Linked DNA regions of Homo sapiens: all the other regions are linked to region 1. Evidence: fine-mapped expression QTL. A gene starts in region 1. Each other region holds a variant in brackets. All regions are shown on one strand. Distances are between the middles of the regions.

What was found. PIP is the estimated chance that this variant, and not a neighbour inherited with it, causes the effect.
Region 2: its variant is fine-mapped to the expression of NSMF in whole blood (TOPMed, PIP above 0.99).
Region 3: its variant is fine-mapped to the expression of NSMF in whole blood (TOPMed, PIP above 0.99).
Region 4: its variant is fine-mapped to the expression of NSMF in whole blood (TOPMed, PIP above 0.99).
Region 5: its variant is fine-mapped to the expression of NSMF in whole blood (TOPMed, PIP above 0.99). The same link has a PIP of 0.9 or more in blood mononuclear cells.
Region 6: its variant is fine-mapped to the expression of NSMF in whole blood (TOPMed, PIP above 0.99).
Region 7: its variant is fine-mapped to the expression of NSMF in whole blood (TOPMed, PIP above 0.99).

The regions. Positions count from the first base shown.
Region 1 is chr9:137,457,313-137,461,383 of GRCh38, reverse strand. NSMF (NMDA receptor synaptonuclear signaling and neuronal migration factor) reads left to right here and starts at 2,050. Exons shown (of 16, transcript NM_001130969.3): 1 at 2,050-2,352; 2 at 2,835-2,896; 3 at 3,483-3,977. The coding sequence starts at 2,282. PNPLA7 (patatin like domain 7, lysophospholipase) reads left to right here. Exons shown (of 35, transcript NM_001098537.3): 34 at 647-750; 35 at 908-1,432. The coding sequence ends at 991. RefSeq lists enhancers at 1-345, 3,169-3,866 and silencers at 1,820-2,169, 2,260-2,529.
Region 2 is chr9:137,505,519-137,509,589 of GRCh38, reverse strand. PNPLA7 (patatin like domain 7, lysophospholipase) reads left to right here. Exons shown (of 35, transcript NM_001098537.3): 13 at 3,507-3,607; 14 at 3,830-3,976. Among named protein-coding and RNA genes, the nearest start is that of PNPLA7, 43 kb to the left of the region's middle. The variant T/C (reference allele first, on the strand shown) is at 2,529.
Region 3 is chr9:137,320,220-137,324,290 of GRCh38, reverse strand. EXD3 (exonuclease 3'-5' domain containing 3) reads left to right here. Exons shown (of 22, transcript NM_017820.5): 18 at 148-201; 19 at 435-566. Among named protein-coding and RNA genes, the nearest start is that of NRARP, 20 kb to the right of the region's middle. RefSeq lists enhancers at 2,702-3,335, 3,336-3,970. The variant C/T (reference allele first, on the strand shown) is at 2,496.
Region 4 is chr9:137,425,630-137,429,700 of GRCh38, reverse strand. It overlaps NOXA1 (NADPH oxidase activator 1), which reads right to left. Exons shown (of 14, transcript NM_001256067.2): 2 at 3,371-3,453; 3 at 1,560-1,668; 4 at 685-819; 5 at 318-425. Among named protein-coding and RNA genes, the nearest start is that of NOXA1, 4.3 kb to the right of the region's middle. RefSeq lists an enhancer at 45-799. The variant G/A (reference allele first, on the strand shown) is at 2,074.
Region 5 is chr9:137,437,560-137,441,559 of GRCh38, reverse strand. ENTPD8 (ectonucleoside triphosphate diphosphohydrolase 8) reads left to right here and starts at 203. Exons shown (of 10, transcript NM_001033113.2): 1 at 203-274; 2 at 3,255-3,400; 3 at 3,476-3,593. The coding sequence starts at 3,275. RefSeq lists a silencer at 49-343. The variant C/T (reference allele first, on the strand shown) is at 2,472.
Region 6 is chr9:137,325,403-137,329,473 of GRCh38, reverse strand. The region is part of intron 17 of EXD3 (exonuclease 3'-5' domain containing 3); the gene reads left to right. Among named protein-coding and RNA genes, the nearest start is that of NRARP, 25 kb to the right of the region's middle. The variant C/T (reference allele first, on the strand shown) is at 2,344.
Region 7 is chr9:137,397,950-137,402,020 of GRCh38, reverse strand. The region is part of intron 1 of EXD3 (exonuclease 3'-5' domain containing 3); the gene reads left to right. Among named protein-coding and RNA genes, the nearest start is that of EXD3, 23 kb to the left of the region's middle. The variant C/A (reference allele first, on the strand shown) is at 2,528.

The sequences.
Region 1 (4,071 bases):
TCCGTCCCGGGCACCACGTGTTCCCACAGCAGTGGGACTGTGACCACCCCGGGTCACCCAGCCCCTGCCCTTCATTCACCTCAACTCCCAGCCACACCTCAGGCCTGAAGTAGAACCACGTTTTGCCTCCCACCCCACCCAGTGGGAAATGGGAATGAAGGCTGCTTGTTGGAGGGGCCGCAGGACAAGAAGGGCGGGTCCACTACCCTCCATGCTCCATCCAGGGCCCTGCGCTTGGGCCTTCAGCCAGTGGCCTCCTCACAGCAGAACTGGACATTCTCCTGGGAGACGTCTTCATGGCTGCCGCAGGCCGAGAGGGCCCTGGGCAAGGCAGCCCCTATCCACAGTTGCCAGGTCTGGGGTGCTGGAGCCCTCAGGGTGCTTGGCTGACAAGGGGAGGAGTGTCTGCCCGCTCCTTGTCCTTGTGGAAGACCCACGAAGTGATGTGCTGGGGCAAAGCTGGAGCCAGACAGAACCAGGGGTGGTGTGCAGGGCTGCCCTGGGACCAGGTGGCTGCGTGTAGGGCCCCGGGCCACCTTGGAGGCGGGGGTGGGCATCTGTGGCCGGTTCTGCCTCTGAGTGTGGCTATGCTGGGTACGGTCCCTTCCTTGGGAGGGGACTGACGCAGCCCTACCCTCGGTGCCAGACGAATCTGACTACCAGACGGAGTACGAGGAGGAGCTGCTGGACGTCCCCAGGGATGCATACGCAGACTTCCAGAGCACCTCAGCCCAGCAGGGCTCAGACTTGGTGAGGAGCTGGGCATGGTCCCACCTGGTGCCCACAGCTGAGCCTTGGTGCCTGGCCCTGTGCCGGCCACTCCCTCCCTGTGGTCCCACCGGGTTACCAGCGCTGCAGAGCCCCTGCCCTGCCTGGTCCTCACCTGGAACATGCGGTCTGCTTGCAGGAGGACGAGTCCTCACTGCGGCATCGACACCCCAGTCTGGCTTTCCCAAAACTGTCTGAGGGCTCCTCTGACCAGGACGGGTAGAGGCCTCTGCTAAAGAGCCCGGATGCAGCGTCTTCCGTGGGACTGTCCCCAAGGCTGAGGCTCCTGCCAAGTCCTAGGGGCCTCTGTACCTGCCCTGCTGGAAGCCCTGACTTCCCCGGGGCCCCAGGCTGTGTTAGGGTTCTCTGGGCCTCTTCTTTGTACCAGCAGCCCTGCATACAGGGCCCTGTGAGCCCCCCTGCAGTCCTGTGAGGCCCCTGAAGCTCTGTGAGGCCCCTGAAGCTCTGTGAACCCCCTGCAGCCCTGTGAGGCCCCCCGAAGCCCTGTGAGGCCCCCCGAAGCCCTGTGAACCACCTGCTGCCCTGTGAGGCCCCCAAAGCCCTGTGAACTGCCTGCTGTCCTGTGAACTGCCTGCTGCCCTGTGAGGTGTGGGAGCCCTGATGCTGCCGTGTGATGTTTCAATAAAGGTGGATCTCACTGTTGGACGTGTCTCCCGGGCCGAGGTCCCTGTGGCAAAGAAACACTACTGGTTCTCCCTGATGCGGGTGGTCCCTGAGGCTGGGCAGTCCCCAGTCCTCCTCAAAGGACCCCACTGCTGGGGCCTGAGAGCCCTAGGGCGGCAAATGCAGGCCAGGCAGGTAGGGCGTCCAGAGTCTGCATAGAGCTGTGGCCCCCCAGGACCAGGACGGGCCCCTCTGTCTCTCTCTGGCCTCGTGCAAACTGGGTGCCCCCTAAACTGGCTTCCCCTTCGGTTTCCAGTTCCCAAACTGCACAGGGAGCCCTTTTGTGTAAGGGGAGGGAGAACCGGCCTCCCTGTGATCCTGCAGGTCTGAGCAGCAGATCGTGAGGGCCGAGGGCCCAGGACTTTGCGACCAGGGGGCCGCTGGCCTCAGTTTCCCCGCTCTGGAGGCCTGGACGAGAGGGCGCGGAGCCAGGCCGCCCGGCCCCGCCCCCAACTCAACCCGGGCCCGGACGTCACGGTGGGCGGGGCCACATGTCCTCTCCGAGCTCTCCGGGGCCCTGACGTCACGGTAGGTGGGGCCGACCGCCCCTCTGGGCCCGCCCGGGCCCTGACGTCACGATGGGCGGGGCCGGCCCTCGGTTCGGGCAGCGCTCTCCCGGGAGCGGCGGCACGCGCGGAGCGCCGGGTGCGGCCATGCGGGGACCGGGCCCGACCCCGAGCCCGACCCCGAGCCCAAGCCCGAGCCGGAGCCCGAGCGAGACCCCGAGCCCGAGCCCGAGCGCGACCCCCGGTGCGGCGCGGCTACCCCGGCGGAGGCGGCGGGCGCGGGGCGCGCTCTGAGGCCCGGGGGATGCGCCGCCGCCTCGACCATGGGCGCCGCCGCCTCCAGGAGGAGGGCGCTGAGGAGCGAGGCCATGTCCTCGGTGGCGGCCAAAGTGCGGTGAGTGCGGCGGGGCCGCCTTCCCGCACCCCGCCCTGGACCTCCGACCCCGCCCGAGTCCGCCCCTGCCCCGCGGTGCTCCCCGGGCTCCCGGGCCCCGGCCTCTGCCACTGAGGCGCCCTCCCCGCGCCCCGCGCCTCCCTCTTCCTGGTCCCCTGCCCTGCTCTTCCCTCCCCTCCCCTCGCGAGCGCGTGGTGGGCGAGCGCACCCCCCAGGTCGGGAGTGGCCTCGGTTCCCCCGGGGAACAGCAGCCGACCGGCCTCGCGACCCCTCTCCACGGTCCGACGGGCAGGGGCCGGGCCTGCAGGCCTGGCCAGGGCGCACCAGGACCAAGGGTGTGTGGGCTCCCGGAGGGGGACGACCCCGACCCTCCTTCCAGACGCCGAGGGCCTGGCTGGGGACCGGACCCCCGGCTCTTGCGCGGCCCGGTGTTTGGGAGGGTCGTGCCGTGGCCTCTGACCGTGCCCTCTGTCCACCCTCAGAGCAGCCCGAGCGTTTGGAGAGTACCTGTCCCAGAGTCACCCTGAGAACCGCAACGGCGCAGGTAGGGGCACGCGAGGCCGTGCCAGGGCCGCCCAGACCCCCCAGCCCAAGGGATGCTGATCCCTGCCTCCGGGGGTGGAGCGTGAGGGGCATTGGTTGCGCGTGGGCCCGGCGCCCTGCCGGCCTGGCTTCCTTACATCCCCTGCCCTCCCTGCCCGAGCCCCAGGAGCAGTTCCCAGCCGCTCGTCACCATGGCACCCACCCCGCCTGGGCCGTTGGCATGGCAACAGGCCTCCTGGCTCCCCCAGGGCTGGCACCACTGCCTCTGGGGGCCAGCTGGTGGGGGGAGGGGGAAGTTGGCACCAGGCAAACGGTGCGATCGCAGGCTGGGGGATGGCCTGCGTGTTCCTACCCGGCAGGACCGCACACAGGTAGCACAGCGTCACCCAGCCCCCACGCACATGCTAGAGCTTCAGGCCCAGATAGGAGTGAGGGGCTCAGAAACACGCCAGTGACTAGGGTTTGGGCAGCCCTAGTCCCCCACAGAGGCCAGGTGCCCACTGGGTGTTCTCTGCCTTCGGCCTGCTATGAAACCGGCAGCGGGGGGCCCACACGCGGCAGGCAGGCTCACTCAGTGTCTCTCCTAGATCACCTGCTGGCTGATGCCTACTCTGGCCACGACGGGTCCCCCGAGATGCAGCCGGCCCCCCAGAACAAGCGCCGCCTGTCCCTCGTCTCCAACGGCTGCTACGAGGGCAGCCTCTCAGAGGAGCCCAGCATTAGGAAGCCCGCAGGCGAGGGCCCTCAGCCTCGAGTGTACACCATCTCTGGGGAGCCTGCCCTGCTGCCCAGCCCTGAGGCGGAGGCCATTGAGCTGGCGGTGGTGAAGGGGCGGCGGCAGCGGCACCCTCACCATCACAGCCAGCCCCTGCGCGCCAGCCCTGGTGGCAGCCGGGAGGACGTCAGCAGGCCCTGCCAGAGCTGGGCGGGCAGCCGCCAGGGCTCCAAGGAGTGCCCCGGATGTGCCCAGCTGGCTCCTGGCCCCACCCCTCGGGCCTTTGGGCTGGACCAGCCACCTCTGCCTGAGACCTCCGGTCGCCGCAAGAAGCTGGAGAGGATGTACAGCGTTGACCGTGTGTCTGGTGAGGGGTTTGTGTCAGGGCATAGACAGGTTTGGGGGTGCATGCCGCTGCCAGGGTCTGACAGCAGCAGCCACTGTGAGGCTTGGAACAGAGA
Region 2 (4,071 bases), 48 kb before region 1:
TAAACTCACTCACACCAGTTAAACTCACTCACACCAGTTAAACTCATTCGTACCAGCTAAACTCACTCATGCCAGCTAAACTCACTCACGCCGGCTAAACTCACTCGTACCAGCTAAACTCATTCGTACCAGCTAAACTCATTCATACCAGCTAAACTCACTCATGCCAGCTAAACTCACTCACGCCGGCTAAACTCACTCATACCGGCTAAACTCATTCGTACTAGCTAAACTCATTCGTACCAGCTAAACTCACTCGTACCAGCTAAACTCACTCACACCAGCTAAACTCACTTGTACCAGCTAAACTCACTCATGCCAGCTAAACTCACTCATGCCAGCTAAATTCACGCCAGCTAAACTCACTCGTACCCGCTAAACTCACTCATACCAGTTAAACTCACTCATGCCAGCTAACTCACTCATGTCAGCTAAACTCACTCATGCCAGCTAAACTCACTCATGCCAATTAAACTCATTCGTACCAGCTAAACTCACTCATGCCAGCCACACTTCAGGTGCTCACTGGCCGCCCATGGTTAGCGGCCACTTCCGGCCCAGCATGTGCTGCTCTCTGTCTTCTGGTGGGCGTGCAGTGGAGGCTGCCTGTGCTCTGATTCTGTCTTCTTGATGAACTGTGAGGCCGAGCACCTTGGATAGCCTTCTTTGTCTTTTGCCCATTTTCCTCTTAGCTTTCATTTTCTTATTATTAATAGGAATTCTTTATATATTCTCTGTATGATTCCTTTGTCAAGTATGTATATTAAAAATATTTTCTATTCACTTTTTACTATCGTAGTGGTGTCTTTTGATGAATAGGAAATTTTAAACTTAATGGGATCTAATTTATCAATATTTTTCTTTTGTGGTTAATATATTTTGTGTCCTGTTTAAGAAATCTGTCTGTAAGATTTAACGTTTTACCTTTCATATGATCCATCTAGAATTTATTCTTTTGTAGAAAGTGAGTAGGGGTCAAGATATATCCTTTTCTTTTTTCTTTTTCCTTTTCTTTTTTTTTTGAGACAGAGTCTCGCTCTTGTTGCCCAGGCTGGAATGCAATAGTGCGATCTCAGCTCACTGCAAGCTCCATCTCTGGGGTTCAAGCAATTCTCCTGCCTCAGCCGCCGAGTAGCTGTTAATTACAGGCGCCCACCACCATGCCCAGCTAATTTTTTGTATTTTTAGTAGAGACGGGGTTTCACCGTGTTAGCCAGGATGGTCTCGATCTCCTGACCTCGTGATCCGCCCGCCTCGTCCTCCCAAAGTGCTGGGATTCCAGGCGTGAGCTGCCGCGCCCGGCTGATACATCCTTTTCTAAATGGCTATCTAGTTGATCCACCACTTTTTCTTTTTCTTTTTTTGAGGTAAGGCCTTGCTCCATGGCCCAGGCTGGGGTGCAGTGGTGAAATCACAACTCACTGCAGCCTCGAGCTCCTGGGCTCAAATGATCCACCTGCCTCAGCCCATGAGGGCTCAAGTGATCCACCCGCCTCAGCCTCATGGGTAGCTGGGACCACAGGTGTGGCCCCCACACCTGGCTGGTTTTTAAAATTTTTGTAGATAGAGATCTCTTGCTGTGTTGCCCAGGCTGGTCTTGAATTCCTGGCCTCAAGCGCTGCCTCCACCTTGGCCTCTGAAAGTGCTGGGATTACAGGCATGAGCCGCTGCACCTGGCCCATTTATTTATGTATTTATTTTTAAGAGATGCAGTCTCTCACTATGTTGTCCAGGCCTCAAACTCCTGGGCTCAAGCGATCCTTCCGGCTTGGCCTCTTGAGCAGCAAGGACCACAGGTGCATACCACCATGCCTGGCCCCCGTATTTTATTTTATTTATTTATTTTGAGATGGAGTTTTGCTCTTGTCAGGTGCATACCACCATGCCTGGCCCCCGTATTTTATTTTATTTATTTATTTTGAGACACAGTTTTGCTCTTGTCACCCAAGCTGGAGTGCAATGGTGCGATCTCAGCTCACCGCAACCTCTGCCTCCTGGGTTCAAGGGATTCTCCTGCCTCAGCCTCCCGAGGACCTGGGGTAACAGGCATGTGCCACCACGCCCGGCTAATTTTGTATTTTTAGTGGAGACAGGGTTTCTCCATGTTGGTCAGGCTGGTCTCGAACCCCCAACCTTAGGCGACCTGCCTGCCTCAGCCTCCCAAAGTGCTGGGACTATAGGTGTGAGAAATTTTATCATTTAGCTACATGCTTGTTGACGTACAAGGTGTGGTCATTACACCCCAGTGTTCCCCTGTGTGGCTGCAGCCAGGTAAAGGGGCTGCTGCGCTCCTCTCGCCCAGCCCAGAGGGTCAGCCCCAGAGGAAGCACTGGTGACCTTTGTTGCCATAGATTGCTTTCCAGTTCGGATTTTTTTAAAAAACAGCAGGACTTGACGGGGGCATGAGTAATACACAGCACAGTGCACCGGGCTGAAGGGTGCCAGCTCCGTGAAACCCGACCAGCGCACCCTCAGCGTAAGCCTCGGAGACATGCGCCCCTTTCCAAGGCCCAGCGCTCCTGGCTCTC[T/C]GTGTCTGGCTTCCCAGGGAGGGGCACATGGCTGTGCTCCTGGGCCTGGTTCCTTCCCGCAGCGCCATGTGGCTGCGGCATCTGTGTGGCATGTGTCTGCGGTTAGTGTCTGCGCGGTTCCTCTGTATTCCGCTGAGAAATGGGTGTTGCGAATTCCAGTATGGATGGGAAACCGCAGTGCAGATGACTCGCTCGCATGCGCAGCTGCACACGAAGGGCTGGATCTGTGCCTGGAAGTGCGTGACCCCGTCGTGCAAAGCGTGCACCCTTCCTCAGAATCCACAGCAGCTGGTCCAGAGGTCAGATACGCTGTGTGTGTAGTGATGTGTAATGCTGAGGGCAGGCTGTAAAAGGGTGCACACTGCTTCATCCCGCTCAGCCCGAGGCCGCCCAAAAGCAGCAACAGGGGAGCTCTTTGGAGGGGGTGCCTCAACCCCCTCCCTCCAAGATGGGGCTGGACTGCGAAGAGCGAACCTCTGAGATGGGGCTGGGACTGCAAAGAGCCAAGCCCAAAGCACCAGCGTGACGGCCCAGGGCACCCGTTAGGGGAGCTCACATACAGAGGGCGGCAGCATCCCTGAGATGGACAGCAAGAGAAAGGGTGCTCTACCCAGGGTTGGCCGCAGCGAGCCGTCAGGGTGTGGCACGCATGGCAAGGTTTGAGGAATTTGGCTCAGGACCAGGGCTGGTTTCCTTCCGTGTTTTAGGTACCGACCGGGCTACCTTTATCAGTGCCCAGAAATGTTGAAGGCACCGTGTGGGTTTAAGCTGCGGAGAAAACCTGTAGCTGGTGGGTCACAGAGCCATTGAGGCAGATGCCGAAAGAAAGCAGGGTGTGGAGGGATCTCAGGGCCCGACTCCCTCGAGGGAGCTGCCGGGGTCTGTGTGGTTAGACTGCAGGGTGTGCTCAGCCCACACCGCGGACGTTTGTGTCAGTGGCCTAGCGAACCGTGTCCTGAGTGTCCCCTCTGTGTGTAGGGGGCCCAGGCAGTGCCACTTCTGATCTGGGGATGGCATGTGACCGTGCCAGGGTCTTCCTGCACTCGGACGAGCACCCCGGGAGCTCCGTGGCCAGCAAGGTAGGCCCTGGCTGTCATTCTCACCCTCCGCCTGGGGCCCCACCCTCTCCGTGGCTTGCTGGTGCATTGGGGGCGCCGCCGGCTTTGGTGTCATGTGGCACCTGCAGCTTCAGGAGGCTCAGCCGGCCTTTCCGCACTGTGCGATTCAGACCTGACCACACCCTTGTGCGATGTTCCCCAACCACATCCCTTCGAATTGCCGGTATCTCCGTTCTTCTCCAGTCCAGGAAAAGCGTGATGGTTGCAGAGATACCCTCCACGGTCTCCCAGCACTCAGAGAGTCACACGGATGAGACCCTGGCCAGCAGGAAGTCGGATGCCATCTTCAGAGCTGCCAAGAAGGACCTGCTCACCCTGATGAAGCTGGAAGTGAGTGGCCCCGGCGGGCACCTGGCCCTTGTCCCACCCAGGGCCCGTGGCCTCCTCTCTGCCTCTGTTGGGCAGTGGTTCCAGGTGTGGAGGAC
Region 3 (4,071 bases), 140 kb after region 1:
AAGACCCCAGGCAGAGGCCACCCTGGAGGACAAAAGGGGCCTGGGGCAGGGCCACGATCCGGGGAGCTAGGGGGTGGCGAGCAGAGGTGGCCCAGTCCAGGAGCACGGAGCTGCCCCCTTTATGTGCTGGTCGCACCTCCCACACAGGTTGCCAGGCAGGAGGGGAGGATCATTCTGACGTCGGGGCAGCCATTCCACAAGGTGAGTGTCCCAAAGATAAGCTCAGTGGGCCTGAGCCCCATCTTCCCAAGCCCCCAGCCCCTCGGCCACCCCCACCTCAGGGTCAGCTTGCCGTGGGGCCGACCCCCAGCGCCTCTGCCGTACCCCTGGTGGGCCGAGAGAAGGCTCCTGCCCCATGCTGGCGGAGGCGGGCTGGGCCTGGGCAGGTGCTGGGCTCTGCACTGCCCCTCAGTAGCCGAGCCGTGTCTTTGCAGCTCCGGGCCCAGGTCGGGGCTGGGCGCTGCCTCTCGGTCGACTGCTCCCTGAAGGCCCAGCAGCAGGCCAAGGCTGTGCTCAAGCATTTCAACGTGCGTGTCACCCACGCAGACATCTTCAGCCGCTGCCAGGTGGGTCCTGCGCACCCCGTCCTACCTGGGGCTGGCACAAGATCTGGAGCTACGGGGGTGTCCAGGGAGGTGGGCCCCACCCTAGACAGTGGTGGGTCTGGGGTGGGGTGTCGGCAGAGCATCCCTCGTGGTCCAGGGTGAGGTGTCGGCAGAGCATCCCTCGTGGGTCCGGGGTGAGGTGTCGGCAGATCATCCCTCGTGGGTCCGGGGTGAGGTGTCGGCAGATCATCCCTCGTGGGTCCGGGGTGGGGTGTCGGCAGATCATCCCTCGTGGGTCCGGGGTGGGGTGTCGGCAGAGCATCCCTCGTGGGTCCGGGGTGGGGTGTCGGCAGAGCATCCCTCGTGGGTCCGGGGTGGGGTGTCGGCAGAGCATCCCTCGTGGGTCCGGGGTGGGGTGTCGGCAGATCACCCCTCGTGGGTCCGGGGTGGGGTGTCGGCAGATCATCCCTCGTGGGTCCGGGGTGGGGTGTCGGCAGAGCATCCCTCGTGGGCCCGGGGTGGGGTGTCGGCAGATCACCCCTCGTGGGTCCGGGGTGGGGTGTCGGCAGATCACCCCTCGTGGGTCCGGGGTGGGGTGTCGGCAGATCATCCCTCGTGGGTCCGGGGTGGGGTGTCGGCAGATCACCCCTCGTGGGTCCGGGGTGGGGTGTCGGCAGATCACCCCTCGTGGGTCCGGGGTGGGGTGTCGGCAGATCACCCCTCGTGGGTCCGGGGTGGGGTGTCGGCAGATCACCCCTCGTGGGTCCGGGGTGGGGTGTCGGCAGAGCATCCCTCGTGGGTCCGGGGTGGGGTGTCGGCAGAGCATCCCTCGTGGGTCCGGGGTGGGGTGTCGGCAGAGCATCCCTCGTGGGTCCGGGGTGGGGTGTCGGCAGAGCATCCCTCGTGGGTCCGGGGTGGGGTGTCGGCAGAGCATCCCTCGTGGGTCCGGGGTGGGGTGTCGGCAGAGAATCCCTCGGGGGTCCGCGGTGGGGTGTCGGCAGAGCATCCCTCGTGGGTCTGGGGTGGGGTGTCGGCAGAGAATCTCTTGGGGGTCCGGGGTGGGGTGTCGGCAGAAAATCCCTCGGGGGTCCGGGGTGAGGTGTCGGCAGAGCATCCCTCGTGGTCCGGGGTGAGGTGTCGGCAGAGCATCCCTCGTGGTCCGGGGTGAGGTGTCGGCAGAGCATCCCTCGTGGTCCGGGTTGAGGTGTCGGCAGAGCATCCCTCGTGGTCCGGGGTGAGGTGTCGGCAGAGCATCCCTCGTGGTCCGGGGTGAGGTGTCGGCAGAGCATCCCTCGTGGGTCCGGGGTGAGGTGTCGGCAGAGCATCCCTCGTGGGTCTGGGGTGAGATGTTGGCAGAGAATCCCTTGTGGGTCCGGGGTGAGGTGTCGGCAGAGAATCCCTGGTCCAGGGTGAGGCGTCGGCAGAGCATCCCTAGTGCAGGCTGGCATGGCCACGGGGACAGCTCCAATCAGGCATTGGCTTGGATTTGGGGAATTCCCTCTGGCTCCCATGGGGCTTCTAGAAGGAATCGAGGGAAATTGTGGAAGTCCCTTCAGGCTGGGTGGGTCCCACTTTCCAAAGGCAACACGCAGGACAGCCTGCGTCTGCTTGGTGACGTCTAACAAGGTCTGGGCAACAGAAGCCCTGAGTGGGAACTGCCGCACCTCGGTGGAGATCCATAGAGGAGGCTGGTGGGGGCACCAAAGCCCAACTCACCTCTCTCCCTCCTCTCCTGTCCCCAGTGGGGGACTGGGCTGAGGCACCTGCCCAGGGCTGCACTGTCCAAGCTTGCTATGCCCCACACCAACTGGCACCTGGGCATGGCCAGTCTGGGGGGAGTTGATGCTGCCTTTTGCGCCTCCACTCAAGGCGCCAGGGTCTCCGTGGGCGACACGGGAGCAAGGGGGACTGTGGGCTGTGCTGGCTCTCGGCAGTTCCCGGTGGAGGGTA[C/T]GGGCTGCTTCCAGAACGTTCCGCAGTTAGGGCCACATCAATATTCCGCCTGGAGCAGCAGGTCGGGGCTGCTCCAACAAGCCCAGTTTTGTTTCCTGGGGTTTTTTGGGGGTGGGACGGAGTCTCACTCCATCGCCCAGGCTGGAGTGTAGTGATGTAATCTCAGCTCACTGCAGCCTCCGCCTCCCAGGTTCAAGCAATTCTCCCACCTCAGGCTCCTGAGTAGCTGGGATTACAGGTGCCCACCACCACGGGCGGCTAATTTTTGTATTTTTAGTAGAGACAGGGTTTCACCATGTTGGTCAGGCTGGTCTTGAACTCCTGACCTCAGGTGATCTTCCTGCCTCAGCCTCCCAAAGTGCTGGGATGACAGGCGTGAGTAATCCCAGCCTCCCAAGCCCAATTCTGGGGGAAGTTTTGGGACCCCCTCATGGAGGGAGATCCCCTCATGGAGGCCACTGTCAGGGTCCCTGCTGGTGCCTGGGCTGGGCAGGGAGGGGCCCTGAGCTCAGCTCCACCCCATGGTCCTCAAGGGCACCCACCTGGCTGAGCAGAAACAGATGCAGGCCTGCGCCTTCTGCTACCGCCCTTCTGCCCCCACAGCCTCAGGCTGGGCCTGGCGGGGATTGAAGCAGGAAGGAAAGAGGGAAAGCTCCGGCTCGGCTCGGATCTGCAGCCGGCCAGGCACCTGTACACACAGGCCCCTGGACCTCCCACTGCCCCTGGCCTGGGGGTGCAGTCTGACCCTCTGACCCCACTGCCCTGCGGGGACCGCGGCCTCTGCCTCAGGTGGCAAGGAAGTGTGCTCCAGGGGCCTCTCCTGCAGCCTTGGGCTCCAGGGGCGGCAGGAACCGCGTCCGCTGCCTCTCTTTGTCTGTGCTCAGGCCAGCAAGCGCTGTAAAGACCCCAGGATGTCCGGGACGCCTGGGGAGGCATGTTAATGAGCTGTTCAGAATCGGCTGCTGCATTTTCTTGAGAAAACAGGAAGTTGGGTAGCTGGGAGGAAACCCCTGCTGGAGCCCTGGCCAGCCGGGTGCTGGGGAGTGCCCCTGAGGACCCAGGCCAGGCATGGAGGGGCCGCCAAGCCCTGCATGGAGAAGGGTGTCCAGGGTGTGAGGCAGAAGGGCAGACTTTGGCCTGGCTGAGTGGATGGGATGGGGGCGTCGGGGGCTGAGCAGTGGGGGCCGCCCTGACCCATGTCCGCCCTGCCTCTTTGCTGGCTACTGGCAGCTCCAAGCTGCTGATGCCACTCTGCCACCCACACCCTGCAACCCCCAAGCTGCCCCTGCTGTGGCAAGCAGGAGCGCCAGGCCCAGGGGGGCTGCAGGTAGAGCAGGCCTGGGAGGGGCTAAGGCCAGAGCTGCACCCCCGTGGGGGGCCAGCAACTGTCCAGGCTGGAGAGGGCAGCGCCAGCTGTCCAGGACCAAGGCAGTGAGGGAAGGAGCATCTGGATCTGAAAGACTGCAAACAGCCGGCGGGGAATTTGGCCTGGAGGGTACCCTGGGCCCTGGCTGCAGCCCCAGGCAGCGACCTGCCACCTGTGCCAGCCCCTCTGTCTGGGGGCAGGACGTGGGGA
Region 4 (4,071 bases), 32 kb after region 1:
GACTCTGGGAGGCTGCAAGGCTGTGGCTGTGGCCATGGCCCAGTCTGGGGGCGGGGTGGCACCTGCAGGGTCCTTGTTGAGAGAGCTGGAGCCCCCTCCTATGCAGCCGGCTCTAGTGGGCTCTGCCTTCAAGCTCACAGCCCCATTTGGGGCACCGCCCCCCTACCGTGGGCGCCAGTTTGAGGATGGCTGTGGGCCCACTCTCTACCCTCCTGGCCCTTACGGTGGCCTGGACTGCACCTCCCCCCATCCCTGGGAACACAGTTCGAGGGCTCAGCACCAGCCGCCATGCCCCAGGACGCCGTCCCCACCTTTACCTTGGCCTTGCCCAGGAAATCCACGGGCTCCAAGTGCTTCAGGTGCCACCGGTGGGGCCGGAAGACCTCGCCCCTGGGGACCTGCCGTGGCGGCAGTGAGCCCCGTCTCTGGAGGGGGTGGGTATCCAGCAGATGCAGACGGGGTGACCAACCAGGCCTGCAGCCGCAGAGCCCCTGTGCCTTGGAGCAGAAGGGGCCGCTTGGGCCCCCCACCCCCTTCCCGCAGGTCACAGGAAGCCCCCGCCTGGCACCCGAAACTGGGCACTAGGGCCATCTCCCTCCGGAAGCTTCTTCATCTCATGAAATTGGTCTTGAGGAGCTTTGGTAGGCACCAGCCCAAAACCATGACCGGGCTGGCACTCCTCACCTGCACTTGGTCCAGGGCTGAGTCCAGGCCATTCAGGGACCCCTCCGGCCACTTGGACATGGCCTCCCTTAGGCTGCTGGCCGCCTCTGTCCAGAGCCCCAGCTGGCACTGTGCCGACGCCACATTGTGTAGCACCTGGGAGTGGGGCCAAGGTGATGGCAGGGGCCTGATGCCCCACCCAGGCCCTCTCCCGGTTCCCCCACCCAGCTCCTCCCTCGGTCTGCCCACCCAGCCCCTCCCCCAGTCCCCCCACCTGGCCCCTCCCCCATCCCCCCACCCAGCCTCTCCCCCAGTCCCCCCACCTGGCTTCTCCCCCGTCTCCCCACCCAGCTCCTCTCCCAATCCCCCCACCCGGCCCCTCCCCTGCACCGTTCTGTGTCCTGGGCTGGCGGGCCCCCACCTGGCTTTAACCCTGACTCCAGACCCACACCAGTGGGCTTTCCCTTCCATCTTTTTGTCCTAAAAGACAATGCTATTCCCAGAAGGCTTCAGGGCGATGCATTTCCGGGGTCTGGTGGGGGGGCCTCTCAGCACCCCTCCTTCGGTGCCAACACGTTCCAGGCAGCCAGGAAAGGGCTGGGGGCACAGTGGAGGGTGGGCACAACCCCCTGCCTGCTCCCTGCCCACCCAGCAGCCTTTCGCCTCTGCCCTCCTTCTGGGTGGAGCCACCCCTGGTGGCCTGAAATGGCACAAAATGGTCCCTCCACCTCCACTGCCACCAGAACCTCCTGCGGGTCAAGGAGTGGCCAGGGTATTCCATGGCACCAAGAGCTTCGGCCAGAGGCGCTCCCCAGTCCACAGGGCCCTCCTGTGACAGTGCCACCGCCCGTGGACACCCCACAGCCAGCAGCACAGTGAGCCCTGCCCGGCCTCACCTCCCAGGCTTGCAGCTTGAACCGCAGGCCCAGCTGCGTGTAGTCGATGGCAGCGTGGCCCCTCAGCTGCTCCAGGGCCAGCCAGAAGTCAGACAGAGCCTCCTGGAACCTGTGGGCAGCCGGGGTCCCCTCAGCAGCACAGGGCGGAGATGGGGCTGTGGTTAGGCAGCTTTCACACCAGCCCCGCTCGAGCCGCCCCCAACACCTGGTTCCAAGGAGACCTGAGGGAGGGCAGTGCGGTGCCTAGGTCTGCACACTCAGGTCTGGTGGGCCAGGGGTCCATGCACATGTGTGCTGAGTGGGTGTGGGGGTCACTGTGTGCTGGGGCTCCACCATTTTCCCAGCTCAGACTCAGCTTCCTGGGCCCCTGCCCGCCCCCAAGCCTCTCTTCTGAACCGTGCAGAGAGCCCTGGTTATTTCCCTCCTGCTTCTCAGGCCCCCCACCCCATGGGGGCTCCCCCTCCAAACTCTGAGCCTCCTTCCAAGCCTTGCTGGGAGCTCCCCAGCGCCTGCC[G/A]GAGAGGCCTCTCCTCCAGGCGGGCTTCCCGCGCCGATGTGAAGGAGAGGCTGCCCCAGAGGGGTCTGGATCGTAATCCAGAAAGGGACAGTCCCACAGCCATAATCCCGAATGCTGGGACTCTTCAGTAAAGGAAGAGATGGCTTTTTCGTTCATCTGCCTTTCTGAAAGGTAAAATATCTCCAGATCCGGGCTCTCTGGGCGACTGCGTATGTGGTGGTCCCTGAAGCCTTTGATGGATCTTGTTAGAAGGTGGGTTGTTCATCTTGGTGTTTTGATGACCAGTTATAAAGCCAGGTGCACACAGTCACCAGCCAGAGTCTACGCACCTACGTCTTACCCCTTCTGACCTAGCTCCTCATGAGCACTGTTCATCTGCTCGTAGTTCTCACACCCGTGAGCCTGTCGCTAGCGTGCATGAATTTGTGCTTGAAAAAATATGTATGTTATTTTTGTCTATTTTATCGGCCAATGAAGGGTTCCGTCGTGTTTTTATGTTTCTCAAATAAATCCCTTTAAAATATGTAAATAGGCTGGGCGAGGTGGCTCATTCCTGTAATCCCAGCACTTTGGGAGGCCGAGGCGGGTGGATCACCTGAGGTCAGGAGTTCGAGACCAGCCTGGCCAACATGGTGATGCCCAGTCTCTACTAAAAATACAAAAATTAGCCAGGCGTGGTGGCACATGCCTGTAATCCCAGCTACCCGGGAGGCTAAGGCAGGAGAATCGCTTGAACCCAGGAGGCGGAGGTTGCAGTGAGCCGAGATCGCACAATTGCACTCCAGCCTGGATGACAGAGCAAGGCTCCTTCTCAAAACAATTTTTAAAAAGTAAATAAATATCTTTTACAGAATTTTATTTTTTCTAGAATTATATTTTTTGGGATTTTAGATTTGAGGGGTTTTGATATTTCAGGATTGCGAGGCTCTCGGGACTGTGATCCACTTCCCCACAGAGCCTGCCCTCCTGGGATGGGGCCTGTGAGTGTCTAGCAGAGAGGCCGAGGCATGGCCTGGTCTGCAGTCCCGATGGTCTCCTTTCCCTCATTCCTCCTTTAGGAAGGGACATGGTGCAGAGAGCCCAGGTAAGCAGTGAGGACCCCACGACCTGTGTCCAAGGGTGGCGCTCAGCAGAGGCGAGGGCCACAGTCTCAGGTTTCCCTGGAGCCAGGAACCATGGAGGAGGGGGTGGGCAAGAGGAGGGAGTGGATGGAGAGGGAGGAGGAGGAGGTGCAGGAGTGGACTCTGCAGGGAGACAAAGGGCCGTCAGAGAAGGAACAAGGCACCCCTGTACTCACCTTGCCAGCTGGAAGTTGGCCACTCCTCGCTGGAAGAAGCCAACCGCCATGCAGGTGTCCTTGGTCACGGCTTGGTCAAATGCCTGGGGACAAAAATGCCCACGGGATGCCAAGGTCTGTAACCTGGTCACGCAGCATCACAGATACAGCGTGATGGGTGACAGGGCCACGGAATTCCGTCAGCCCCTGGGGACCCCCCACAGCCCCTCCTGCTCCTGTCCAGGAACCTTCGGAGCCCCTGCCTGGGCAGGGCTGTCGCCACTCAGGTTGCCACAGCCCACCCAACCCCAACCCGTCCAAGGCGCAGAGCCCACTGAGGTGCTGCTAAAACCAATGTGTTTACCATGAGCACAAGGACAGAGGCCAGAAAAAAGTGTTCCAGTATGTTAATAATAGTTACCTCTGGGGAGTGGGGTTATGCAAGATTTTTGTCTTTTAAAAATCCTTTTTTTTTTTTTTGAGACGGGGTCTCGCTCTGTCACCCAGGCTGGAGTGCAGTGGCTCGATCTTGGCTCACTGCTGCCTCCGCCTCTGGGTTCAAGACATTCTCAAACTCCTGACCTCAGGCAACCTTGGCTGTCACATACTGGAGACGAGATAACGCAGTCCAGATCCCAGAGTCAGCAGCTAAAGAACTGCATTACAGGCCGGGCATGTTAGCTCACGCCTGTAATCCTAGCATGTTGGGAAGCTGAGGTGGG
Region 5 (4,000 bases), 20 kb after region 1:
ACCGAGACAGACCCGCGGGTGGGAGATGCGGGGAGACCCTGGGCGGGGGACCCGAGGGTGGAGTGGGCGGGGCGACCTTGGGCGCTGGCCTCAGCCTGCGGGCCCTGGAGCCAGGTGCACAGCGCATCGCCCGAGGCTGTCACCGCCCTGCCCCGCCCACCCCAGCTGTCCTGGACCCAGGGGCAGGGAGAGGCTGGACGCCAGGTGCGCGGACACAGAAGCGTCTAAGCACAGCTTCCTCCTTGCCGCTCCGGGAAGTGGGCAGCCAGCCCAGGTGAGGGTCCAAAGGGATGTCCTGGGGGGGCTGTCCTGGTCTGGGGGGCTGTCCTGGTCTGGGGGGCTGTCCTGGTCTGGGGGGCTGTCCTGGTCTGGGGGGGCTGTCCTGGTCTGGGGGGCTGTCCTGGTCTGGGGGGGCTGTCCTGGTCTGGGGGACTGTTCTGTCTGAGGGGGTGTCCTGGTCTGGGGGGGCTGTCCTGGTCTGGGGGGCTGTCCTGGTCTGGGGGGCTGTCCTGGTCTGGGGGGCTGTCCTGGTCTGGGGGGGCTGTCCTGGTCTGGGGGGCTGTCCTGGTCTGGGGGGGCTGTCCTGGTCTGGGGGACTGTTCTGTCTGAGGGGGTGTCCTGGTCTGGGGGGGCTGTCCTGGTCTGGGGGGCTGTCCTGGTCTGGGGGGCTGTCCTGGTCTGGGGGGGGCTGTCCTGGTCTGGGGGGCTGTCCTGGTCTGGGGGGGCTGTCCTGGTCTGGGGGGCTGTCCTGGTCTGGGGGGGCTGTCCTGGTCTGGGGGACTGTTCTGTCTGAGGGGGTGTCCTGGTCTGGGGGGGCTGTCCTGGTCTGGGGGGCTGTCCTGGTCTGGGGGGGCTGTCCTGGTCTGGGGGGGGCTGTCCTGGTCTGGGGGGCTGTCCTGGTCTGGGGGGGCTGTCCTGGTCTGGGGGGCTGTCCTGGTCTGGGGGGGCTGTCCTGGTCTGGGGGACTGTTCTGTCTGAGGGGGTGTCCTGGTCTGGGGGGCTCTCCTGGTCTGGGGGGGGCTGTCCTGGTCTGGGGGGCTGTCCTGGTCTGGGGGACTGTTCTGTCTGAGGGGGTGTCCTGGCCTGGGGGGCTCTCCTGGTCTGGGGGGGGGCTGTCCTGGTCTGGGGGGCTGTCCTGGTCTGGGGGGGGCTGTCCTGGTCTGGGGGCTGTCCTGGTCTGGGAATCTGTTCTGTGTGAGGGGGTGTCCTGGTCTGGGGGGCTCTCCTGGTCTGGGGGGGGCTGTCCTGGTCTGGCGGGGGCTGTCCTGGTCTGGGGGGCTGTCCTGGTCTGGGGGGCTGTCCTGATCTGGGAGTCTGTTCTGTGTGAGGGGGTGTCCTGGTCTGGGGGGGCTGTCCTGGTCTCAGGGACTGTTCTGTGTGAGGGGATGTCCTGGCCTGGGGGACTCTCCTGGTCTGGGGGGGCTGTCCTGGTCTGGGGGGGCTGTCCTGGTCTGGGGGGCTGTCCTGGTCTGGGGGGGCTGTCCTGGTCTGGGGGACTGTTCTGTCTGAGGGGGTGTCCTGGTCTGGGGGGCTCTCCTGGTCTGGGGGGGGCTGTCCTGGTCTGGGGGGCTGTCCTGGTCTGGGGGACTGTTCTGTCTGAGGGGGTGTCCTGGTCTGGGGGGCTCTCCTGGTCTGGGGGCACTGTCCTGGTCTCGGGGGGGCTGTTCTGGTCTGGGGGGCGCTTTCCTGGTCTGAGGAGCTGTTCTGATCTGGGAGGCTGTTCTGGTCTTGGGGGTCTTTTGAGTGTGGGAGAGGTTGCCCCAACCTCTTTGCCTACCTGGAGGCTCAGGCCTGGGGGTCTCAGGTGGCTACATCTTCTGGGTGTGGAGTCCCTGTGTTCCTGGCCCCTGTCACCTGTTTGTCCCTATGAGGTGGCCTATGGCCTGGGTGCTGGTTGGGGACACAGGCTGGGCCCTGTCTGGGCTGGACCGGCCTCCTGTCCTCTCTGAGCCTCTGTCATCTACCCTCCTTAAAATGGGCTTATATCCCCCGGACATACAGAATTGCGTGAGGACCCCACAGCGTGTCCCACTTTCCACGTGCCCAGGAGCCCCAGGTCAGGACCAGGGCAGCACCCGCGCCTGCCACTCAGTGTGGGTGCAACGTTTCCCGGGGGAACACGATAGGACACGGTCACATGGGGTTCAGGTGCCGGGACCTTGGCAGGCAGCCTCTGGCTTTGACCACTCCTTTGGCAGTGGTACCCGTGTGAAGTGGGGCTGTATGGGGCACAGGGTCGGCCTGGGGTAGTTTGAGAGCTGAGACCCTTGCTGGGCGTTTGGGCAGAGGAGGAGGTGGACACCTCGGCCACAGGGCTAGAGAAGCCCAGGCCCCTCAGATGGCATCCCTGGGTCCACCTCCCGACCAGGCGCCATCTGGCACCAGCTAAGAAGGTGCAGAGTCAGATTAGGGAAGCCTTGGGCTGGATTTCCAGAGAAACCGATGTTGTTAAGAAGCCTCACACTCGGCTT[C/T]CTAGGATGGCTGGCCTCACCCTGGGTTCACCCACAGCCCCTCGGCAACAGTCCCCTCAGGGCTCCAGAGAGAAACCCCCACCCTAGGAGTGCCTGGGGTGGGGGCCGCAGAGAGGAGGCAGAGCCCTGGGCCCCCAGTGCAGGCTGGAGCTGTGGCTGCTCCTGGGGAGGGTGGCACGGGAGAGGCAGGACCGAGGGGTGGGGACACAGGGTGGCCCCATCACATGGTGGGGGCAGCTCCGCGAGTCCCATCCGAGGGGGTCCGAGGGGGCTACTTGGATCCTGCTGGGGCTGTGTCCCCAGACGAGGCCTCTGCTGCCCCCCGCCCCCCTCCCACAGGGCCCTCTGATGCCCATGGCACCCCTGGCAGGCGTGGCTCCTGGGGAGTGGTCCTTGGCCACGGGAGGCGTCTGAGCCCCGGGGATGCCTCTATGGCCACGGGAGACCGTCTGAGCCCCGGGGATGCCTCTATGGCCACGGGAGGCCGTCTGAGCCCCGGGGATGCCTCTATGGCCACGGGAGGCCGTCTGAGCCCCGGAGATGCCTCTATGGCCACGGGAGGCCGCCTGAGCCCCGGAGATGCCTCTAAGGCCACGGGAGACCGTCTGAGCCCCGGGGATGCCTCTATGGCCACGGGAGGCGTCTGAGCCCCGGAGATGCCTCTAAGGCAAGTGGCTGTCCAGGGGTGCGTCTCCAGGGAGACGGGGAGCGAAGCCTCTGCCTCTGGAGGGCGGGATGGGGACACCAAGTGCAGCCTGGGTGCCCACGGCCGTCCCCCCACAGGAACCAGTACCACCTGCACCATGGGGCTGTCCCGGAAGGAGCAGGTCTTCTTGGCCCTGCTGGGGGCCTCGGGGGTCTCAGGCCTCACGGCACTCATTCTCCTCCTGGTGGAGGCCACCAGCGTGCTCCTGCCCACAGACATCAAGGTGCGTCCCCGCCGGCAGGGGAGGCCGGGCCGGGTCCACAGGTGTTGCCTCCCACTCATCCCACTGTCTCCCCAGTTTGGGATCGTGTTTGATGCGGGCTCCTCCCACACGTCCCTCTTCCTGTATCAGTGGCTGGCGAACAAGGAGAATGGCACGGGTGTGGTCAGCCAGGCCCTGGCCTGCCAGGTGGAAGGTTAGTGGGCTGTTCTGCAGCCCGGTGCTGGGACCTGCCTGTTGCTGCCTGGCTGGGATTCCCAGCTGCACGGAAAGGGTTTGGAGAGGTTCAGTGACTTGGCTGAGCTCACACGCCGGGCATGGGTGCTGGGCCGGAGCCTGCGTTCACGCGGTGGCACTCTGGGGACCTCCCTGCCTGATCCTGGTGAGCAGTCAGATTCTCATGGCCTGGCCTGGGTCTGCCCAGCATCTGCTGCCTCCAGCCCTGACCCTCTCTGGCCCCTGGTGCTCCCCACCCTGGCACCACGTGGTGCTGGCAGCCGAGGCTGGTAGTTACAGGGGTGCCTGCACTCCAGGATCCTGAGAGGGGAAAACAGGAGGCCCCGAATTTGTTTCCTGGGGGCTCTGGTAACAAATTACCACAAA
Region 6 (4,071 bases), 130 kb after region 1:
CCGTGTAGCTCCCGTGTAGCCCCGTGTAGCTCCCGTGTAGCTCCCGTGTAGCCCCGTGTAGCCCCGTGTAGCCCCGTGTAGTCCCGTGTAGCTCCCGTGTAGCTCCCGTGTAGTCCCGTGTAGCCCCGTGTAGCCCCGTGTAGCTCCCGTGTAGTCCCGTGTAGCCCCGTGTAGCCCCCTGTAGCCCCGTGTAGCTCCCGTGTAGCCCCGTGTAGCCCCGTGTAGCTCCCGTGTAGCCCCGTGTAGCCCCGTGTCGTCCCGTGTAGCCCCGTGTAGCCCCGTGTAGTCCCGTGTAGCTCCCGTGTAGCCCCGTGTAGCCCCGTGTAGCTCCCGTGTAGCTCCCGTGTAGCCCCGTGTAGCCCCGTGTAGCCCCGTGTAGTCCCGTGTAGCCCCGTGTAGTCCCGTGTAGCTCCCGTGTAGCCCCGTGTAGCCCCGTGTAGCCCCGTGTAGCTCCCGTGTAGCCCCGTGTAGCCCCGTGTAGCCCCGTGTAGTCCCGTGTAGCTCCCGTGTAGCCCCGTGTAGCCCCGTGTAGCCCCGTGTAGTCCCGTGTAGTCCCGTGTGACCCTGTGTAGTCCCGTGTAGCCCCGTGTAGTCCCGTGTAGTCCCGTGTAGCCCCGTGTAGCCCCGTGTAGTCCCGTGTAGTCCCGTGTGACCCTGTGTAGTCCCGTGTAGCCCCGTGTAGTCCCGTGTAGTCCCGTGTAGCCCCGTGTAGTCCCGTGTAGTCCCGTGTAGCCCCGTGTAGTCCCGTGTAGTCCCGTGTAGTCCCGTGTGACCCTGTGTAGTCCCGTGTAGCCCCGTGTAGTCCCGTGTAGTCCCGTGTAGTCCCGTGTAGCCCCGTGTAGTCCCGTGTAGTCCCGTGTAGCCCCGTGTAGTCCCGTGTAGTCCCGTGTAGCTCCTGTGTAACTAGTCTGTTTCTTCCCTTTGACCCGTTTCCTTTGGTTTTTTCCCGTATATTTACTTTATTTACCAGTTGTGTTTGTTTTTACTTTTGTTTTTACTCATCATATAGGTGTATATTAGTTGTTTTTACTCATCATATGAGTGTATATTAGTTGTTTTTACTCATCATATGAGTGTATATTAGTTGTTTTTACTCATCATATGGGTGTTTATTCGTTGTTTTTACTCATCATATGAGTGTATATTAGTTGTTTTTACTCATCATATGGGTGTTTATTCGTTGTTTTTACTCATCATGTGGGTGTTTATTTGTTGTTTTTACTCATCATGTGGGTGTATATTTGTTGTTTTTACTCATCATATGGGAGTATATTAATTGTTTTACTCATCATATTGGTGTATATTAGTTGTTTTTACTCATCATGTCGGTGTTTATTCGTTGTTTTTACTCATCATATGGGTGTATATTAGTTGTTTTTACTCATCATATGGGAGTATGTTAGTTGTTTTTACTCATCATGTGGGTGTTTATTCGTTGTTTTTACTCATCATATGGGAGTATATTAGTTGTTTTACTCATCATATGGGTGTATATTAGTTGTTTTTACTCATCATATAGGAGTATATTAGTTGTTTTACTCAGCATATGGGAGTATATTAGTTGTTTTTACTCATCATGTGGGTGTTTATTCATTGTTTTTATTCATCATGTGGGAGTATATTCGTTGTTTTTACTCATCATATGGGTGTATATTAGTTGTTTTTACTCATCATGTGGGTGTATATTTGTTGTTTTTACTCATCCTATGGGAGTATATTAGTTGTTTTTACTCATCATGTGGGTGTATATTTGTTGTTTTTACTCATCATATGAGTGTATATCAGTTTTTTACTCATCATATAGGTATATATTGGTTGTTTTTACTCATCATATGGGTGTATATTTGTTATTACCACGAAGTAACTACTTTCTGTTTCCCTTTTTTTCTTTCTTTTTGTGGTAAAACATACATAACACGAAATTGACCATTTTAACCATTTTTAAGTGTACAATTCAGTGGCATTAGCACATTCACTGTATCACATATCCATCACCACCACCCCTTTCCAGAACTGGGTATCATCCCAAAGACTCCATACTGGCCGGGCGCGGTGGCTCACACCTGTAATCCCAGCACTTTGGGAGGCCGACGCGGGCGGATCACAAGGTCAGGAGGTCGAGACCATCCTGGCTAACATAGTGAAACCCTGTCTCTATTAGAAATACAAAATATCAGCGGGCCGTGGTGGAGGGCGCCTATAGTCCCAGCTACTCAGGAGGCTGAGGCAGGAGAATGGCGTGAACCCGGGAGGCAGAACTTGCAGTGAGCCAAGATCGTGCCACTGCACTCCAGCCTGGGCGACAGAGCAAGACTCTGTCTCAAAAAAAAAAAAAAAAGACTC[C/T]GTACCAATAGTTATCTCCCCTCCCCTCCTTCTAGCCCTGGTGGCCACTGTTCCACTTTCTGCCTCTATGAATTGACCTGTCCTAGGTACCTCGTAGACGTGGAATCATATAGTATCTGCCCATTTGTATCTGGCATCTTTCACTCGGCGTGTCGTAAGGGTTTATTCACGACGTAGCCTGTGTCGGAACGTCCTTCCTTTTTTTTTTTGAATGTGGCTGCTACGAACACTGATGTATGAGGATGTGCTTGAGTTCCTGCTTTCAGTTCTTTTGCATATACAGCTAAAGGTGAAACTGCTGAATCCTCTACTGACTCTGTGTTTAACTTCTTGAGGAACCTTCACACTGTTTTCCACGGCGGCCACACCATTTACCTTCCCGCCAGTGACGCATGAGAGTTCAGTTTATCCACATCCCACCAACATTTATTTCCCTTTTTTTTTATAAAGGCCACCCTAATGGATGTGATGTCTCACTGTGGTTTTTATTTGCATGTCGCTCATGACGAATAATGTAGAGCATCTTTTCATGTGCTTATTGGCCACGCGTATATCTTTGAAGAAGTGTCTATTTAAGTCCTTTGCCAACTGTTTTTTTTCTTTTTGAGATAAGGTCTCACTTTGTTACCCAGGCTGGAGTGCAGTGACACGATCACAGCTCACAGCAGCCTCAGCCTCCCAGGCTCAGGCCATCCTCCCGCCTCAGCCTCCCAAAGTATTGGGATTACAGGCGTAAGGCACCGTGCCCTGCCCTTCAATTTTTAAACTGGATTATTTGCTTTTCTGTTGTTGAATTATAGGGTTCCTCCTATACTCTGGATATCAACCCCTCGTCAGATACGTGATTTGCAAATACCGACGTCTCCACCCTGAGGTGTTTTATTCCTCCAGAGTGTCCTACGTGTACATTTCACTGTAATGAGGGTCCAGTCGCTCCAGTGTTTCTTTTGCTGCCTTTGCTGCGGTGTCATATCGAAGAAATCCTGGCCAAATACAGCGCCAGGAAGTGTTCCCCTGTGTCTTCTTCTAAGAGTCTTTTTTTTTTTTTTTTTGAGACAGGTTCTCACTTTGTAGCCCAGGCTGGAGTCTGATGGCGCAAACACGGCCCACTGCAGCCTTGACCTCCCGGCTCAGGTGATCATCCCACGTCGACTTCCTAAGTAGCTGGGACTACAGGCACGCCTGGCTAGTTTTTTTATTTATTGCAGAGATGGGGTTTTGCTCTGTTGCCCAGGCTGGTCTAGGACTCCTGGACTCAAGCAATCTACCCATCGCAGCCTCCCAAAGTGCTGGGATTACAGGCACGAGCCGCCTTGCCCAGCCTCTTCTAAGAGTTTTATAGTATTAGCTCTGATGTTTTTGAGTTGGTCTTGCACTCTTAAAGATAACTAACGATTTGGCCGGGTGCGGTGGCTCACACCTGTAATCCCAGCACTTTAGCAAGCCAAGGCAGACAGATCACCTGAGGTCAGGAGTTTGAGACCAGCCTGGCCACCATGGAGAAACCCCGTCTCTACTAAAAATACAAAAATTAGCTGGGTGTGCTGGTGCATGCCTGTAGTCCCAGCTACTTGGGAGGCTGAGGCATGAGAATCGCTTGAACTCGGGAGGCAGAGCTTGCAGTGAGCCGAGATTGTGCCACTGCACTCCAGCCTGGGCGACACAGTGAGACTCCATCTCAAAAAAAAAAAAGTTAACTGATGATTTTAAGGAACCATTCTGAATGCA
Region 7 (4,071 bases), 59 kb after region 1:
AAAAGAATTATGTTTAAAAAGGGAAACAGCATAAAAATTCAGAAAATGTGCAACCTGACGCAGTAGAAAAGAAAAACCAATTTTTTCAGGAGAAATTCAAGCCGGCTGCAGAAATTTACATAAGTAGCAAGGAGGCTAATGTTCATCCCCAAGACCATGGGGAAAATGTCTCCAGGTCATGTCAGAGACCTTCATGGCAGCCCCTCCCATCATAGGCCTGGAGGCCCGGGAGGAAAAAGTGGTTTTGTGGGCTGGGCCCAGGGTCCCTGTGCTGTGTGCAGTCTAGGGACTTGGTGCCCCATGTCCCAGACACTCCAGCCGTGGCTGAAAGAGGCCAACATAGAGCTCGGGCTGTGGCTTCAGAGGGTGGAAGCCCCAAGCCTTGGCAGCTTCCACGTGGTGTTGAGCTTGTGGGTCCACAGAAGTCAGGAAATGAGGTTTGGGAACCTCTGCCTACATTTCAGAAGATGTTTGGAAATGCCTAAATGTCCAGGCAAAAGTTTGCTGTGGGGCGGGGCCCTCATGGAGAACCTCTGCTAGGGCAGTGCAGAAGGGAAATGGGTGGGGGCCGGGCACGGTGGCTCACACCTGTAATCCCAGCACTTTGGGAGGCCGAGGCAGGCAGATCACAAGGTCAGGAGATCAAGACCATCCTGGCTAACACGGTGAAACCCCGTCTCTACTAAAAATACAAAAATATTTAGTCGGGTGTGGTGGCGGGCATCTGTTGTCCCAGCTACTTGGGAGGCTGAGGCAGGAGAATGGTGTGAACCCGGGAGGTGGAGCTTGCAGTGAGCTGAGATCGCGCCACTGCACTCCAGCCTGGGCAACAGAGTGAGACACCATCTCAAAAAAAAAAAAAAAAAAAGGAAATGGGTGGGAGCCCCCACACAGAGTCCCTACTGGGACACTGCCTAGTGGGACTGTGAGAAGCAGGCCACTGTCATCCAGATGCCAGAATGGTAGATCCACCGACAGCCTGCACCATGTGCCTGGAAAAGCAGCAGACACTCAACACCACCTGTGAAAGCAGCTGGGAGGGAGGCTGTACCATGCAGAGTCACAGGGGTGGAGCTGCCCAAGACCATGGGAACCCACCTCTTGCATCAGCATGACCTGGATGTGAGACCTGGAGTCAAAGGAGATCATTTTGGAGCTTTAAAATTTGACTGCCCTTCTGGATTTCAGACTTGCGTGGGCCCTGTAATCCCTTTGTTTTGTCCAATTTCTCCCATTTGGAACTTTTTTTTTTTTTTGAGATGGAGTCTCGCTCTGTTGCCCAGGCTGGAGTGCAATGGCGCGATCTCGGCTCATTGCAACCTCCACCTCCCAGGTTCGAGTGATTCTCCTGCCTCAGCCTCCCAAGTAGCTGGGACTATAGGTGGGTGCCACCACGCCCGGCTAATTTTGTATTTGTAGTAGAGACAGGGTTTCTCCATGTTGGTCAGGCTGGTCTCAAACTCCCGACCTCAGGTGATCCACCCTCCTCGGCCTCCCAAAGTGCTGGGATTATAAGAATGAGCCACCATGCCCGGCCCAGAATGGCTGTATGTACTGAATACCTGTACCCCCATTGTATCTAGGAAGTAACTAACTTGCTTTTGATTTTACAGGCTCATAGGCGGAAGAGACTTGCCTTGTCTCAGATCAGACTTTGGACTGTGGACTTTTGGGTTAATGCTGAAATCAGTTGAGACTTTGAGGGACTGTTGGGAAGGCATGATTGGTTTTGAAATGTGAGGACGTGAGATTTGGAGGGGCCGGGACGGAATGATGTGGTTTGGCTGTGTCCCCACCCAAATCTCAACCCGAATTGTATCTCCCAGAATTCCCACGTTATGGGAGGGACCCAGGGGGAGTAATTACATCATGGGGGCCAGTTTTTCCCATGCTATTCTTCTGATAGTGAGTAAGTCTCATGAGATCTGACGGGTTTATCAGAGGTTTCCTCTTTTGCTTCTTCCTCATTTTCTTTTTTTTTTTTTTTTTTTGAGATGGAGTTCTGCTCTGTCACCCAGGCTGGAGTGCAATGGTGCAGTCTCAGCTCACTGCAACCCCTGTTCCCAGGTTCAAGTGATTCGCCTTTCTCCGCCTCCTGAGTACCTGGGAGGCACCACCACCACGCCTGGCTGCTTTTTGTATTTTTAGTAAAGACAGGGTTTCGCCATGTTGGCAGGCTGGTCATGAACTCCTGACCTCAGGTGAACTGCCCGCCTCAGCCTCCCAAAGTGCTGGCATTACAGGAGTGAGCCACTGTACCCGGCTCTCATTTTCTCTTGCCACCACCATGTAAGAAGCGCCTTTCGCCTCCCACCATGATTCTGAAGCCTCCCCAGCCATGTGGAACCATAAGTCCAATTAAACCTCTTTTTGTTCCCAGTTTCAGGTATGTCTTTATCAGCAGCGTGAAAATGAACTAATATGGGGGTTAGGAAGAGAAGCCAGGAATAAGAGAGGAGACCCTTGTAAAAAGCTTCAGAAAACCAGAACTCGTGGATAGTATTAAATTTGTGATAGCAGAAATGAA[C/A]CTTTCAGTGAGAGGGTTGCAAAATAAAGTTCAGGAAATCTCCCAAAAAGGCAGAGAAGGAAAGATGAGAAGACAAAGTAATTCTCAGGAAGTGTAAGTTCTAAACAGCAGGAGTTCCTGAGGACAGAACTGAGGGCGTGGAGGGCAGGACACCATCGGGAAGCCACATGCAGAAGGGTGGCCACGGAGCCCCCAGGGGACCACACCATGTCCGTCCTGCTGGGATCCGGCCACGGCCCCGGGGTCTCCCCAGAAGATGCTGGCACTCGAGTCAGGGGGCATCAGATTTCTCAGCAACCCCTGAGGCTAGAAGACAGTAGAGGGGCGTTACCATGACCGTCAGGAGAATGACCCCTGCCCCACAGCCACGCACAGCCAGGCTTCCAGTGGAGGTGCAGTGTGCGTGTGTCATGGGGACGTGGATGCGCCTGTGCCACAGGGACAGTCTGTGTATGTCACGGGGATGTCGGTGTGCACGTGTTACGAGGATGTTGGACGCGTGTCACGGGGACATGGTTGCCTGTGTGTCTTGGGGATGTGTCTTGGGGACGCGGGTGCACATGTGTCACGGAGACGCGGTTGCCTGTGTGTCTTGGGGACGCGGGTGCATGTGTGTCACGGGGACGCGGGTGCCTGTGTGTCTTGGGGATGCGGGTGCACGTGTGTCACGGGGACGCGGGTGCCTGTGTGTCACGGGGACGCGGGTGCCTGTGTGTCACGGGGACGCGGGTGCCTGTGTGTCTCGGGGACGCGGGTGCCTGTGTGTCTTGGGGATGCGGGTGCACGTGTGTCACGGGGACGTGGGTGCCTGTGTGTCTTGGGGACGCGGTCGCCTGTGTGTCTTGGGGACGCGGGTGCCTGTGTGTCTTGGGGACGCGGGTGCCAGTGTGTCTTGGGGACGCGGTTGCCTGTGTGTCTTGGGGACGCGGTTGCCTGTGTGTCTTGGGGACGCGGTTGCCTGTGTGTCTTGGGGACATGGGTGCACATGTGTCATGGGGACGTTCTCAGACAAGCAAAGGGCTACTCAGTGCTCCTCCCTTGCGGTTCTGCCTGAGGTGCTCCTGGAAAAGGTGCTCCCTTAGAACTAGGAGGTGAACTTCGGGGAGCACAGGGGACAAGAGGGAAGGGGGTCCAGGGTGAGCAGGGCTGCAGTGCAGCCATCCAGACGGAGGCAGGCAGAGGCTGGGGAATGGGTGTCTCCACAAAGCGTGTGAACCCCAGAGCCAGGCGTGCAGTGCTGCAGACGGGGCCGTTCACCAGGGGAACAGAGGGCGCCCGGCTGTGGACCGTGGAGCCACAGTTCCTTCTGTCTTTCCCCCTCGTTCTTTCAATCTGGTCCTTCTTTGATCTGTTTTCAGATTCACTGACTCATCTGCCATCCACCTGCTGTGAAGCACAGCCACTGAGTCAAACACATTTCAGTGATGACACTTTTTATTGCCGAGTTTCCATTTAGCTCTTTTATGTAGTTTCATATAATCTTCATTTCTCTCCTTTTACTCATTAAAACCATATTTTTTAACTTTATTCATGGTTTTTTGGGG